Linked DNA regions of Homo sapiens: region 1 is linked to region 2. A link means that fine-mapping ties the variant in region 2 to the expression of a gene that starts in the linked region. Tissue or cell type: whole blood. Region 2 holds a variant in brackets; the other region holds the start of a gene. All regions are shown on one strand. Distances are from middle to middle.

Region 1 (8,102 bases), 720 kb after region 2:
GCTTCCTGGGTTCAAGCTATTCTCCTGCCTCAGCCTCCTGAGTAGCTGGCATTATAGGCATGCACCACAACACCCAGCTAAATTTTTTTGTATTTTTAGCAGAGATGAGTTTTGCCATATTGGCCAGGCTGGTCTTGAACTCCTGACTTCAAGTGATCCACCCGTCTCGGCCTCCCAAAGTGCTGGGATTACAGGCGTGAGCCACGGCACCAGGCCTAGTCTAGTCTTTTCACGTTTTTCTGCCTGCTTTATATTCTGGCCGCACTGGCAGCTGATTAGTTGGTGCCCACCCAGATTGAGGATGGGTCCGCCCTTCCCAGTCCCACTGACTCAAATGTTCACCTCCTTTGGTAACGCCCTCACAGACACACCCAGGATCAATACTTTGCATCCTTCAATCCAATCAAGTTGACACTCATTATTAACCATCACAAGGTGTGAGCCCTGCACCCAGCAATATATTGCTTTTTATATATTTATAGAAATTCAATTGGTTCTGTTTCTCTGGAAAATCCTGATCAATATACACTCCTTCATTTTTCTTATAGCACTGAATTATGGGATAAACCAGGTTGGTTGTCCTGTAGAATGTCCCACACTGTGATTTGACTGATGTTTCCCCATGATTTTAACTTCTATCTCCTGTGTTTCCCAATCAACCCACTTGGGTTTTTGTTTTTTCTTTTTGTTTTTAGATAGGGTGTCACTGTGCTGCCTAGGTTGGAGTGCAGTGGTACAGTCACAGCTCACTATAGCGTCGACTTCCCAGGCTCAGATGATCCACCCATCTCAGCCTCCTTAGTAGCTGGATCCACAGGTGCACACCACCACACCTAGCTAATTTTTAATTTTTTTAGAGATGGCAGAGGTGGGGGGGGTTGCGGGGGGGTCTCACTATGTTGCCCAGGCTGGTCTTGAACTCCTGGGCTCAAGCGATCCCCCTGCCTTGGCCTCCCAAAGTGCTGGGATTACAGGTATAAGCCACCGCACCTGGCCCCAAACAACCCACTTTTTTTATTCTCTCAGTTTTTGCCCTTATTTAATCCCCCACTCTTACTTCAGCCTCGTTAGGAACTTGAGTCTCTGGACCCCTCTACTTTTTCTCTGCCAATAAGCCCTTTCATAATGTTCGTCATCACTCCAACCACTCTACTTTTTAAAAATGGACTTTGTTGAGGAATAACATGCATACAATAAAATGCTTGTATTTAAAATGTACTTTTCAGCGGATTTTAATAAATACATACATCTGTGTAACTACCGCCACCATCAAGTCGCTCTCTTCTTCACAGCCCCCACTCTGTCTCCTCTCATCATGCTTTCCCAACCTACATCAATCCCTCAGACTCCCCCTCTCCTGGCACGCCTGGCTGCAGACCTGCAGGAGAGAACACACACGCCGACCTGCTGGAAACCTGTACATCAGTACTGCCCTCCCGAGGACCCTCGGTCTTTGTCCAGGCAGCAGTGCTCGCCCATGCTCCACAGCAGCTTTTTCTTTTTCTTTTTTTCTTGAGATGGAGTCTCGCTCTTGTTGCCCAGGCTGGAGTGCAGTGGCACAATCTCAGCTCACTGCAACCTCTGCCTCCTGAATTCAAGCGATTCTCGTGCCTCAGCCTCCCGAGTAGCTGGGACTGGAGGCGCCCACCACCACACCCAGCTCATGTTTTTGTATTTTTAGTGGAGACGGGGTTTCACCACATTGGCCAGGCTGGTCTCCAATTCCTGAGCTCAAGTGATCCACCCGCTTCAGTCTCCCAAAGTGCTGGGATTACAGGCCTGAGCCACTGTGCCCGGCCAGTAAGTTTCTTTTTTTCTTTTGAGACAGGATCTCCCTCTGTTGCCCAGGCTGGAGTGCAGTGGCATGATCTTGGTTCACTGCCACCTCAAATGTCTGTCTTTACCACTGTGTAGTAACAAATTTGGCCAGGAGTGGTGGCACATACCTGTAACTCCAGCACTTTGGGAGATCAAAGCGGGAGGATCACATGAGCCCAGGAGTTTGAGACCAGCTTGGGCAACATAGTGAGACCCTATCTCTACCAAAAAAATAAAAAAAAATTAGCCAGGCACGGTGGCATGCACCTGTCATCTCAGCTACTCAGGAGGCTGGGGCAGGAGGATTGCTTGACTCCAGAAGGTCGAGGCTGCAGTGAACTATCATCATGCCCCTGAGCCCCTAAATCCCAAATGATAGGAGTGTCCATCTTATTCATTGTGGGCTTCTCAGACCACTCCTGATGGTTTATGCTAATGAGATGACTTGGGATGGGCCCCTATATAGTTCATGTTAACAAGATGACTGAGGATGGGAACTGGCCATGCTGGAAACCAACGACCGAACACGACACTTGAGCTTTGTGGCTTTGAGCCCCACCTCTGGATGGGTCAGGGAGACTGGTGATTGAGAAAACAATCTCACTAGAAGAGTGAGAGATAGAATAGCCAGCACACTGCGGCCTCGATCTGAACCAGCTCAGGTCTTTCCAAACACTAGTGACATGTGGCTATCTAAATTTAATTAAAGCCAGGCGCAGTGGCACATGCCTGTAATCCTAGCACTTTGGGAGGCCGAGGTGGGCAGATCACCTGAGGTCAGGAGTTTGAGACCAGCCTGGCTAACATGGTGAAACTCATCTCTACGAATAATACAAAAAGTGGCTGACTGTGGTGGTGCATGCCCGTAGTCCTAGCTACTCAGGAAGCTGAGGCACAAGAATTGCTTAAACCCAGGAGATGGAGATTGCAGTGAGCCAAGATCCTGCCACTGCACTCCAGCCTGGGCGACACAGTGAAACCCCGCCTCAAAAAATAAATTTTTAAAAAATTAATTTAATTACAATTAAAACTTCACTTCCTCAGTCCACTGGCCACTTTTTTTTTTTTAATTTCCATTTTTTTTCTTTTATTGAGTCCACCACTGCGGCCTTGAATTCCTGGGCTCAAGCGATCTTTTTGCCTCAGATCCTGAGTAGCTGGGACACAGGCGCCTGCCACCACGCCTGGCTGCTGGCCACATTTCCAGTGCTCAATAGCTACTTGAAGCTTGTGGCTACCTTACTTGGGCAGCACAGATAGGGAAAGTTCTATTGGACAGGGCTGCCTACCTAGCCCTTTTTTAAAACGTCCTTTTATACTATTTTGTCAGATGGGGTCTCACTTTGTTGCTCAGGCTTTTCTCAAACTCTTGGGCTCAAGTGATCCTCCTGCCTCAGCCTCCCAAAGTAATTTGTAAATACGTGTAAATAATATAGTCCTCTCTTGTTGCATCAAAATGAATGCAAAAATGTCACGATGGGGCCGGGCGCGGTGGCTCATGCCTGTAATCCCAGCACTTCGGGAGGCCGAGGCGGTAGGATCACCTGAGGTCGGGAGTTGGAAACCAGTTTTCTGGTGCCTCCTTAACTTTTGCACTGGAGGGACAACGGAAGGGCCCTGTGTCATCCTCACCTCCCCCATCTGTGATTCTTCTGATGGTTAATTACCACTTTAAAGCTCTAGTTCTTTTTCCTTCACCTACTGAGAGTATATCTCCTTCTTTACAGTAACTTTTACTTTATAGAGTTTTTTTTGAGACGGAGTCTCACTTCGTCACCCAGGCGGGAGTGCAGTGGCACGATCTCGACCCACTGCAACCTCCGCCTTCCGGGTTCAAGCGATTCTCCTGCCTCAGCCTCCCGAGTAGCTGGGACTTACAGGCGCCCGCCATCACGCCCAGCTAATTTTTCAGTACAGACGGGGCTTCACCAGGTTGGCCAGGCTGGTCTCGAACTCCTGACCTCAGGTGATCCACCCACCTCGGCCTCCCATATTGCTGGGATTACAGGCGTGAGCCACCGCGCCTGGTCCCGTTTTGGCTATTCTTTAATATGCTTCCCTATAACTGCTATCTCCACACCAGCCTTGCCTTAGCTCATGGGAAACAAAACCAATTAGTTCCCCCATTACCTGCCTTGAGGAGCAGGGGTGGTGCAGTGGCATGCACCCAGGGAAGTGTGTTGTATGGGCCCCCAAGTGCAGAATCTGAATCTTGCAAAGGAAGAAACAAATTCGTCTCCACGGAGCATGTCTCCCCAGGACTCTCAGCCTTCCAAATCCGCAGTCACAGTGACTCAGCAGAATCTGAGCCTAGGGCACCACAGTAATCCGCATCCGGCTCTTTTTCTGCTCCATTTCGTGCCAAGGCTAAAAGGGCATGCCCACTTGATCCCTGGACTCTCTTGGGACGACTTCCACCCTGCATCCTCTTGCACCTCAGGGCACAGTGCGCAGATGGGCTTGCCTTAGCACCCCCAGCCAGATTTTTGAGGCCTCTGTCACACACACCCCTACAATCCCCTCCCCCAGCCCCGAGAGACTTTTCTTGACTTCCACCAGTTGCTCCGGCGGGTGAGAGTGGAGAGGCCCCTCCTTCATCCCCCAGGCTCCCTCCCTTCCTGGAGCTGCAGCCTCAGCATCCTCCGCCCAGCACCCCAGGATTCAGGCGTTGGGTCCCGCCCTTGTAGGCTGTCCACCTCAAACGGGCCGGACAGGATATATAAGAGAGAATGCACCGTGCACTACACACGCGACTCCCACAAGGTTGCAGCCGGAGCCGCCCAGCTCACCGAGAGCCTAGTTCCGGCCAGGGTCGCCCCGGCAACCACGAGCCCAGCCAATCAGCGCCCCGGACTGCACCAGAGCCATGGTCGGTGAGTGCTGCAAAGGGCGGGGTGCTTGGCGGTCGTCTCTCGAGCACTGGTGCCTGTGGAGGAGGTTGTAGGGGCTTGGCCCTGAATTTTGTTCCTTGACTCAAAACCCACAAAGGGAAGAGATTAGGGACCTGGGATGAGCCTTGATCGGACTCCGGGAGAAGGAGAGCTTCTGTTTGTATCCGGTGTCGCGGATCCTTCCTCACTCCACCCCACGAACTCTAGTGGGCATTTAGGAGAAACTTGACCTTGGAAGCAGAAATTCCCTCCAAAACTGTGGTCAGAAACTGGCCGTCAGAGGCCAAATCAGGCTTACGGTCACAGCCCATACCTCTTTTGGTCTATAGTATCTAAAACACTTTGAAATAAGTTGCTAACATTAAAATGGGTGATTTCACTTAAAAATGTGGATTCCGAGCTTCTGAAGAAAATGAGAATATCTGGCGATTGGTGGACAGGAGTGGAGGAAACTGATGCCTTTGGTTTGACGGAGACCAGAACCGGCTCCAGGCTGCCAGGCACAGGTTTTGTTTTGTTTTGTTTTGTTTTGTTTTGTTTGAGACGGAGTTTTGCTCTTGTCGCCCAGGCTGTAGTGCAATGGCGCTATCTCAGCTCAGCGAAACTTCCGCCTCCCGGGTTCAAGCGATTCTCCCATCTCAGCCTCCCGAGTAGCTGGGATTACAGGAGTGCGCCATCATGCGCGGCTAATTTTTATATTTTTAGTACAGACGGGTTTCGCCAAGTTGGCCAGCGCGGTCTTGAACTCCTGACCTCAGGTGATCCACCCACCTCAGCCTCCCCAAGTGCTGAGATTACTGACGTGAGCCACCGTGCCTGGCCTTGGGAGGCATTTTCCATTGAGGCCCTTGGATTAGGCAAACCTGATCAGATCGTACTGGATCCGTTTCTAGTATTGGGTCCACTTCAGTGATAGAGCCTTCCCACTCGGCCATCGACCCTAGGGGAACTCAGAGGTCACCCCAGCTCCACCCAAGGCATAAATAACCAGCTGAGACAACTGCAGGGATTGAGAGCTGTTTCCCAAATAATCTCACTCTGAGATTGGACAGTACTAAGATTTAGAAAGCTGTTGCCTCATCTGGGGCAGAATCCTGTGTTTTGTAATTTCCTTCCCTGTGGACCTGGTCCTGCCTCTAAAAATGCGCCTGTACACAAAGAAGCCCATCTTGGTCAAAGTGAGTGGAGGAACAGACTGCCCTTGCAGTTGACAAACTGAAATTATCAGGATCTCTGAGAAAGGGACTAAGCTGGGGATTGGTAGCCCAGCATGAGTTACTGGCAGAGACAGCAGGGAATAGATTCTGACAGCTGAGAGGCTTGCCGCATACACGGTGGTTGCTGTTTCCCTTGTATTTCATTCTTCAGCGTCGAGGCACTGGCACCCTCTCCTCCAATACTAGGGCAGGAACTATTTCCTGACTTTTCAATCTTACAGAATGTTCTGTATTTACGTGTAGCTTAAACACAAAAAAGGGCGGTGGTAATGAGGTGAAAAGGGAAGACTTGGATCTTGTATAATTAGTTTTAGCTGTACCCAGCTAACCAAATCTTGAGGTTAACTAAAGCATCCAGGTTTTTTGTTTGCAACTAATAGATGCATCTGATTTGCACTCATGTTCCCTGGAGCACTCAAGTGAGAAGAGAAGGCAGAAGGAGAATGCATGAAACTGATACAAAGGCTTATCTTTATCATACTTCTTTTTTTCTTTTTGAGACAGGGTCTTGCTTTGTTGCCCAGGCTGGAGTGCAGTGGCATGATCAGGGCTCACTTCAGCCTTGACCTCCTGGGCTCAAGTGATTGTCCCATCTTTGCCCCCGAGTAGCTGGGACTACAGGTGTGTGCCACCACACCCAGCTAATTTTTTTTGGTCAGAGCAGAAGAACTTGAAACCCAGCTAATTAAAAAAAAAAAAAATTTTGGCTGGGAGTGGTGGCTCATTCCTGTAATCCCAGCACTTTTGGGAGGCTGAGGCGGGAGGACTGCTTGAGGCCAGGAGTTCAAGACCAAGATTCAGCTCAAATGGCAAGCTCCTCTGAGGGCCTTTCCGAATGGGCCAGCCCTGAGGTCCTGAAGTTTTCCTCTGTTGAACTTTTTGAGATGGAGTCTCACTCACTCTGTTGCCCAGGCTGTAGTGCAGTGGCGTGATCTTGGCTCATTGCAATCTCCACTTCCCAGGTTCAAACGATTCTTGTGCTGCAGCCTCCCAAGTAGCTGGGATTACAGGCGCCCACCACCACGCCCAGCTAATTGTGTATTTTTAGTAGAGACGGGGTTTCACCATGTTGGCCAGGCTGGTCTCTAGCTCCTGACCTCAAGTAATCCACCCGCCTCGGTCTCCCAAAGTGCTACGATTACAGGCATGAGCCACCACACCCAGCCTTCTGTTGAACTTTGTCCCTTACCTCTCCTAACACACTAATGCCATTGTACCCTGAAGAGGTTATCCGTGTGTGCATCTTGTGGCCTCTCTCAGGGTAAACTCTAATAGTCTAACTCCTCCCAGGTCATGTTGCTCAGCTAGTTAAGTGGCAGGAAGGGAAAATGAACCCTCCAGGGCCCAGAAAACTTTTAAATTGCCTATTCACAAGCATCTTTTTGTTTGTTTGTTTGAGACAGAGGCTTGCTCTGTTGCGCAGGCTGGAGTGCAATGGTGCGATCTCGGCTCATTGCAACCTCCGCCTCCTGGATTCAAGCAATTCTCCTGCCTCAGCCTCCCGATTAGCTGGGATTACAGGCACCTGCCACTACACCTGGTTAATTTTTTTTTGTATTTTTAGTAGAGACGGGGTTTCACCATGTTAACCAGGCTGGTCTCTAACTCCTGACATGAGGTGATCTGCCCGCCTCAGCCTCCCAAAGTGCTGAGATTACAGGTGTGAGCCACCGCGACCCACCCACAACCTTCTTTTGATCATTTTTCTTTTGAGTTGTTTTGGGGATCTACCTATTCCAGGTACTGCACTTTGATGGTTATATTTGTTGCAAATATATTATTCCTGCTTGTGTGTTGCCTTACATGAAAAATTGTAAAGTCACAGGCCTGCTTATAGCTATTAGAGTCTGAGCTCCTTGAAAGAGCAAGAGATGGATATCCTGATTTGCTCATTTTCTGAGAAGTGCCTTGACTGTCTTACTACTTAGAAAATGCTTGTTAACATTGATGAGAAGTCAATAAAATAAAAACTGTTGGCTGGGCGCTGTGGCTCACGCCTGTAATCCCAGCAGTTTGGGAGGCCGAGACAGGCGGATCACGAGGTCAGGAAATCGAGACCATCCTGGCTAACACGGTGAAACCCCGTCTCTACTAAAAATACAATTAGCCGGGCGTGGCGGCGAGCGCCTGTAATCCCAGCTACTCTGGAGGCTGAGGCAGGAGAATGGCGTGAACC
Region 2 (8,102 bases):
GTCAAAGGGAAAAGTCAAGCTGAGAACTGCATCAGGGAAACCTACCTCCCATTTTATTCTTAAACAAGATAACTACAAAGATAAAAAAGCTAGATATGGCCTGGCCCTCACAACTTGCCCACTAGGAAATTCCTTGTGTGCCCCCAAATCTGTACCCTAAAACAGTTGTGTGGAATTTCAGTGACAATGTAAATTTATAGCTTATCTTCACAGGTGCTGGGCTTTGACAGCACTGAAAGTCATCTCTCAGCTCACCTGAGACAAATGCATATCTCATTGCTTCCTCTGCCCTATGTTTATTTTTTCTTATGTAAAAATGCATATTCACTGAGCTAGATGAATGCATAAGTGACTAGTCCTCTATCCCCCTCTAACATGTGAAAGGCTTATCAAAGACTCAGAAGAATGCAGCCATTTGCCTCTTACCTACCCATGCCTTTTAAAAATTTCCTCTTTCAGGCCAGGCACGGTGGCTCGCACCTGTAGTCCCAGCCCTTTGGTGAGGCCGAGGCGGGTGGATCATGAGGTCGGGAGTTGAAGACCAGCCTGGCCAATATGGTGAAACCCCGTCTACTAAAAATACAAAAATTAGCTGAGCGTGGTGGCGCGCACCTGTAGTCCCAGCAGCTTGGGAGGCTGAGGAAGGAGAATCGCTTGAACCCGGGAGGCAGAGGTTGCAGTGAGCTGAGATTGCACCACTGCACTCCAGCCTGGGCAACACAGTGAGGCCCTGTCTAAAAAAAAAAAAAAAATTCCTCTTTCCCCAATATCTGACCTTTCCCCTTTAAATATTGAAGCCCTCAAAATCATCTTTGGAGAAAGGTACAGACCTGTCTCCCAGGTGCACACATTCTTAACTTTGGCAAAATAAACTTGTAAATTGATTGAGACCAGTATCTGGTGCTTTTTGGTTTACAACTGGAAAACTAAACTAGGCACATCCATGCAAGACAGATGCTCTATATGTTCAGTAGGGAGTGATGTTCAGGACATCATGTTAAGGGAAAAGCAGCAAGTTGTAGAGCAATATGTATGGGAAGCCCCTCAAATAAAAAATAATGTTTATGGACAGATAGTGTGTGGATACACAGGAACAGGGCTGGAAGCGAACGCATGCTAGGGAGAGACTGCTAAGCATGGGGACAAGCGGGGAGAACTTGAGCTTTATCTGTATTGTTTGAATTTTTCTTACAAGAATGTACTTTCCAAATCTGTTGTTAATAAGGAGCCTAAAGCTGGGCACAGGTGCTCACGCCTGTAATCCCAACACTTTGGGAGGCCAAGGTGGGAGGATGGCTTGAGCTTGGGAGTTTGAGACCAGCCTGGGCAACATAGCAAGACCCCGTCTCTAAAATATATATAAATTAGGGCCGGACGAAGTGGCTCATGCCTGTAATCCCAGCACTCTGGGAGGCCAAGGCAGGCAGAAAACTCGGGGTCAGGAATTCAAGATGAGCCTGGCCAATTTTTTTGTTATTGTTGTTGTGAGACAGAGTCTCACTCTGTTGCCCAGGCTGGAGTACAGTGGTGTGATCTCGGCTCACTGCAACCTCCGCCTCCCAGGTTCAAGTGATTCTCTTGCCTCAGCCTCCTGAGTAGCTGGGATTACAAGCATGTGCCACCACGCCCAGCTAATTTTTGTATTTTTAGTAGAGACGGGGTTTCACCATGTTCAGGCTGGTCTCCAACTCCTGACCTCAGGTGATCCACCCACCTCGGCCTCCCAAAGCGTTGGGAGTACAAGCGTGAGCCACCGTGCCCAGTCAGTGGCCAATTTTTTTTTTTTTTTTTTTTTTGAGATGGAGTCTCACTCTGTCTCCCAGGCTGGAGTGCAGTAGCACCATTTCGGCTCACTGCAAGCTCTGCCTCCCAGGTTCATGACATTCTCCTGCCTCAGCCTCCTGAGTAGCTGGGACTACAGGCACCCGCCACCACGCCCAGCTAGTTTTTTGTACTTTTAGTGGAGACGGGGGTTTCACCGTGTTAGCCAGGATGGTCTTGATCTCCTGACCTCATGATGCACCCACCTCGGCCTCCCAAAGTGCTGGGATTACACGCATGAGCCACAGTGCCCGGCCGCCAATGGCCAATTTTTTAAATACAAAAATTAGCCAGGCGTGGTGGCAGGAGCCTGTAATTCAGTTATTCGGCAAGCTGAGTCAGGAGAGTCATTTGAAGCCAGGAGGCGGAAATTGCACTGAGCTGAGATCGTGCCACTGCACTCCAGCCTGGGTGACAGAGCGAGATTCTGTCTCAAAAAACAAATAAAATTTAAAAAAAAATAAATTTACAAAATAATGAGGCTGAGAGGCACTGAGGTCAGTCACAATGGAGATGGACCCTGCTCTAACTCTGTGTAACCATCTATAAAGTAAGTTAATAATAGTATCAAATATCTGAGATTGTTGTGAGGGTAGGATAAATGCTTGACTCCATAGTAAATACTCAAAAAGTATTAACCATTATGATTATCGTCATTATTCCCATCCTGCTCCATTAAAGCAGGATGTTTGGTTTGTTCACCATTGTATCCTCAGGCCTTAGAACAGTGCTGAGGACATGGTAGTGAGAGGTGACAGCGTGCTGGTAGTCCTCACAGCCCTCGTTCGCTCTCCGCGCCTCCTCTGCCTGGGCTCCCGCTTTGGCGGCACTTGAGGAGCCCTTCAGCCCACCGCTGCACTGCGGGAGCCCCTTTTTGGGCTGGCCAAGGCCGGAGCCGGCTCCCTCAGCTTGCAGGGAGGTGTGGAGGGAGAGGCGTGGGTGGGAACCGGGGCTGTGCGCGGTGCTTGCGGGCCAGTACGAGTTCCGGGTGGGTGTGGGCTTGGCGGGTCCGCACTCGGAGTAGCCGGCCGACCCTACCAGCCCCGGGCAATGAGGGGCTTAACACCCCGACCAGCGGCTGCAGAGGGTGTGCTGGGTCCCCCAGCAGTGCCGGCCCACTGGCGCTGCGCTCGATTTCTCGCCCGGCTTTAACTGCCTCCCCGCGGGGCAGGGCTCCGGACCTGCAGCCCGCCATGCCTGAGCCTCCCCAGCCACGCCGTGGGCTCCTGTGCCGCCAGAGCCTCCCCGACGAGCGCCGCTCCCTGCTCCACGGCGCCCAGTCCCATCGACCACCCAAGGGCTGAGGAGTGCGGGCGCAGGGCGCAGGACTGGCAAGCAGCTCCACCATGCAGCCCCAATGCGGGATCCACTGAGTGAAGCCAGCTGGGCTCCTGAGTCTGGTGGAGACGTGGAGAACCTTTATGTCCAGCTCAGGGATTGTAAATACACCAATGGGCACTCTGTATCTAGCTCAAGGTTTGTAAACACACCAATCAGCACCCTGTGTCTAGCTCAGCATTTGTGAGTGCACCAATCCACACTCTGTATCTAGCTACTCTGGTGGGGCCTTGGAGAACCTTTGTGTCGATACTCTGTATCTAACTAATCTGGTGGGGACGTGGAGAACCTTTGTGTCTAGCTCAGGGATTGTAAACACACCAATCAGCGCCCTGTCAAAACAGACCACTCAGCTCTACCAATCAACAGGATGTGGGTGGGGCCAGATAAGAGAATAAAAGCAGGTTGCGGAGCCAGCAGCGGCAACCTGCTAGGATCCCCTGTGGTATTGGGGAGGTCTTGTTATCTCGCTCTTGGCAATAAATCTTGCTGCTGCTTACTCTTTAGGTCCCCACTCCTTTTATGAGCTGTAACGCTCACCGCAAAGGTCTACAGCTTCTAGTCTTGACGCTAGCAAGACTAGGAGCCCACCGAGAGGAACCAACAACTCCCGACGCACTACCTTAAGAGCTGTAACTCTCACCGTGAAGGTCTGCAGCTTCACTCCTGAGCCAAGGAGACCACGAACCCACCAGAAGGAAGAAACTGAACACATCCGAACGTCAGAAGGAACAAACTCCAGACGCACCACCTTAAGAGCTGTAACACTCACGGCAAGGGTCCGTGGCTTCATTCTTGAAGTTAGTGAGACCAAGAACCCACCAATTCCGGACACAGTAGGTGGTTAAAAACAATTGATTGGCCAGGTGTGGTGGCCCACACCTATAATCCCAGCACTTTAGGAGGCCGAGGCAGGAAGATCACCTGAGGTCAGGAGTTCGAGACCAGCCTGGCCAACATGGTGAAATCCTCTCTCTACTAAAAATACAAAAATTAGTTGGGCATGGTGGTGGGTGCATGTAATCCCAGCTACTCAGGAGGCTGAGGCAGGAGAATCGCTGGAAGCCGGGAGGTGGAGGTTGCAGTGAGCTGGGATTGCACCACTGCACTCCAGCCTGAG[C/T]GACAGAGCGAGAGACTTTGTTTCAAAAAAAAAACCCAATTGGTTGAATGAATGAAGAGCAACCTTCTGCTCAGCTCTCGCCACCCACCTTCTCCTCACACTGTCTGCTTCCCTCAGTCTTCTCCCACTGGAGTCATTCTCCATCTACACTTGGCCCAGGTCTCATCCTCCTTCTCCCACTTCAATGCCTGCTGTTTCTTCTGTGAACCTAGGAGGCCTCCAGGGAGGTGATGAACTGCCTCTCACTGTTGCTGTTCTCAGCAATGCAGGTCCTGGGCTCTGCAGTGAAGTGGGAAGTAGGGATGCCTGCAACTGCGGGTTTGGTGGGGGCTCAAGAAAACAGTGTGCCCCCAAGGAGCTTAGAGGCCTTATGCTCCACCCTATACCTCCTAGGGCAGTATGGTTAGTAGAGGAGAGGTAGCTTCCAGGCTGCTCTGGCATCTCCTTGCCTGAGGAGCAAAGAAACTCAAGGAAGGTTTTTAGTAAAATGAAGCCCTCAGTGCAGCAGCAGACCCAAAAATCTGTACGTGGCCTCACCATCTGGGGTACACAGAGCCATTACACACACATACACACAAACTGTTATAAAATAAAGCACAGTCGGCCAGGCATGGTGGCTCATGCCTGTAATCCCAGCACTTTGAGAGGCTGAGGCGGTAGGATCACGAGGTCAGGAGTTCGAGACCAGCCTGGCCGACACGTAAAACCCATCTCTACTAAAAATACAAAAACTTAGCAGGGCATGGTGGTGGGCATCTATAATCCCAGCTACTCAGGAGGCTGAGGCAGGAGAATTGCTTGAAACCACGTGGTGGAGGTTGCAGTGAGCCGAGATCATGCCACTGCATTCCAGCTTTGGCAACAAGAGTGAAACTCCATCTCAAAAAAATAACAATAAAATAGAGCACAGTCGGACGGGCATGGTGGCTCATGCCTGTAATCCCAGTACTTTGGGAGGCCGAGGTGGGCATATCATTTGAGGTCAGGAGTTTGAGACCAGCCTGGCCAACATGGTGAAACCCTGTCTCTACTAAAAATACAAAAATTAGCTGGGCGTGCTGGCGCGTGCCTGTAATCCCAGCCACTCAGGAGGCTGAGGCAGGAGAATTGCTTGAATCCAGGAGGCAGGAGATGCAGTGAGTCAAGATCATGCCACTACACTCCAGCCTGGGTGACACAGCGAGACTCCATCTCAAAAAATAAAAAAGAACAGAGTCTAGTGATTAAATCCAAGGATTAAACTTAGACAAATCCGCTCAGCTGCCACGACTTTCTTTTTTTTTTCTTTTTCTTTTTTTCTCTCTTTTGAGACAGGGTCTCACTCTGTTGCCCAGTTTGGAGTGCAGTGGTGCAATCACGGCTCACAGCAGCCTCCAACCCCTGGGCTCAAGTGATCCTCCCAAGTAGCTGGGACTATAGGTGTGTGCAACCACACAGGGTCTTGCCATGTTGCCAAAGCTGGTCTCGAACAGCTGGGTTCAAGCAATCCTCCTGCCGTGGCTTCCCAAAGTACTGGGATTACAGGCATGAGCCACCACACTCAGCCCTTTAAAAACAATATTTTTTTTCTTATAGCATAGAGACTGGGTCTCACTACGTTGCTCAGGCTGGGTTTTTGTTTTTTTCTTGTTGTTGTTTTTTTATTTTATTTGAGATGGAGTCTCGCTCTGTCTCCCAGGCTGCAGTGCAGTGGCCCAATCTCGGCTCACTGCAGCCTCTGCCTCCCGGGTTCAAGTGATTCTCCTGCCTCAGCCTCCTGAGGATTACAGGCACATACCACCACACTTGGCTAATTTTTTTTTTTTTTGAGACAGAGTCTCACTCTGTCGCCCAGGCTGGAGTGCGGTGGCATGATCTTGGCTCACTGCAAGCTCCGCCTCCCGGGTTCATGCCATTCTCCTGCCTCAGCCTCCCGAGTAGCTGGGACTACAAGTGCCTGCCACCACGCCTGGCTAATTTTTTGTATTTTTAGTAGAGACGGGGTTTCACCGTGTTAGCCAGGATGGTCTCGATCTCCTGACCTCATGATCCGCCCGCCTCAGCCTCCCAAAGTGCTGGGATTACAGGCATGAGCCACCGCACCTGGCCAAACACATGGCTAATTTTTGTATTTTTAGTAGAGATGGGGTTTCATCATACTGGCCAGGCTGGCCTTGAACTCCTGAACTCAGGTGATTTGTCTGCTTCACCCTCCCAAAATTCTAGGATTATAGGCATGAGCCACCACTCTTGGCCTCCAGCCTGGTCTTGAACTCCTTGGCTCAAGCGATCCTCCCACCTTGGGCTCCAAAAGTGCTGGGATTACTGGTGTGAGCCACCACACCTGGCCTCTCATCACTTTCTAACCGTGCGAGCAAGCCACTCAACCTGTTTGAGCCCAACTTCCTTATCTGTGAGATTAAAATAGAATTTCCAAATTAGGTTGTTGGGAGGGTTTCATGAGCTAATGCACATAAAGGGTTTAGCGCAGTGCCTAATACAATGTAGGCATCCAAACTCCTTATTGTTAAACAAATGACCTACTGCCAGAATGTGAGGGTCCAGGTCTGGGAGGGAGGACTTTTTGGAGAAGGTGAAATCTTCAGGCCCCTGATGAGATGTGTGGCTGTTACTGGTAGCAGAAATTCCCTCTGGGAGCCAGAACTGCCCATAGGGATATTTTAGGTTGGGTGCCTAGATGCAGAGCCTGAGACAGGAATTCTTGTGTAAGCGACTTCCTAGGGGAGTGGGGAAAGCAGGATAGGGCAGGGAAAGAAACCAAGTAAAGATGTAAGTTCACCTAAATTTTGCCTCAATCTGATTGAACAGGGAGCTCTGGAGCATAAAATGCAATCCAGGCCAGGTGCAGTGGCTCACACCTGTAATCCCAGCATTTTGGGAGGCCGAGGCAGGCGGATCATCTGAGGGCAGGAGTTCCAGATCAGTCTGGCTGATATGGAGAAACCCCATCTCTACTTAAAATACAAAAAGTAGCCGAGCATGGTGGCATGTGCCTGTAATCCCAGCTACGTGGGAGGCTGAGGCAAAAGAATGGCTTGAACCTGGAGGGTGTACGATGCAGTGAGCTGAGATATCGCTACTGCACTTCAACCTGGGTGACAGAGCCAGACTCTGTATCCCCCCACCCCGCAAAAAAGCCAATTCCTTGGCACTGGAGGAAGAAAACTAAAAAAGAAAAAAAAAGGCCGGGCATGGTGTCTCCCATCTGTAATCCCAGAATTTTGGGATTAGGTGGCACAGATTTCCAGTTACACTAGCAGTGGATAAGAATGCCCCACACTCTTGCCAAGATAGTTATCAAGCTTTTTGATTGTTGCCAATCTGGTATGTGAAAAATGATATCTCAGTGTGGTGATTTTCATCTGCATTTGTTTTATTAAGAGTGATGTGGCTAGGTACAGTGGCTCACGCCTGTAATCCAAACACTTTGGGAGGCCAAGGCGGGCGGATCACGAGGTCAGGAGTTCGAGACCAGCTTGGCCAACATGGTGAAACCCCGTGTCTACTAAAAATACAAAAATTAGCTGGGCATGGTGGCAGGCACCTGTAATCCCAGCTACTCGGGAGGCTGAGGCAGGAGAATTGCTTGAACCTGGGAGGCGGAGGTTGCAGCGAGCCTAGATCACACCACTGCACTCCAGCCTGGGCAAAAGAGCAAGATTCTGTCCAAAAAAAAAAAAAAAAAAAGAAGGAGGAAGGACAACGAGAAGGAGAGGAAAGGGAAGGAGAAGGAGAAGGGTAAGGGGAAACTTGATGCTCCCTTTGCATCCCATTGAGGTACAGAGGGAAAAAAAAAAAAAAAGAAGAGTGATGCTCTGAGAAA

Evidence for each region. PIP is the estimated chance that this variant, and not a neighbour inherited with it, causes the effect.
Region 1: NQO1 starts here. The variant in region 2 is fine-mapped to the expression of NQO1 in whole blood (TOPMed, PIP above 0.99).

What each region holds. Positions count from the first base shown.
Region 1 is chr16:69,723,022-69,731,123 of GRCh38, reverse strand. NQO1 (NAD(P)H quinone dehydrogenase 1) reads left to right here and starts at 4,564. Exons shown (of 6, transcript NM_000903.3): 1 at 4,564-4,691. The coding sequence starts at 4,685. NQO1-DT (NQO1 divergent transcript) reads right to left here and starts at 4,397. Exons shown (of 2, transcript NR_186363.1): 1 at 3,949-4,397. RefSeq lists enhancers at 3,095-4,088, 4,297-4,556, 3,803-5,002, 4,089-5,081.
Region 2 is chr16:70,445,825-70,453,926 of GRCh38, reverse strand. It overlaps LOC124903708 (a long non-coding RNA gene), which reads left to right. Exons shown (of 2, transcript XR_007065104.1): 2 at 460-890. Among named protein-coding and RNA genes, the nearest start is that of FCSK, 4.7 kb to the left of the region's middle. The variant C/T (reference allele first, on the strand shown) is at 4,280.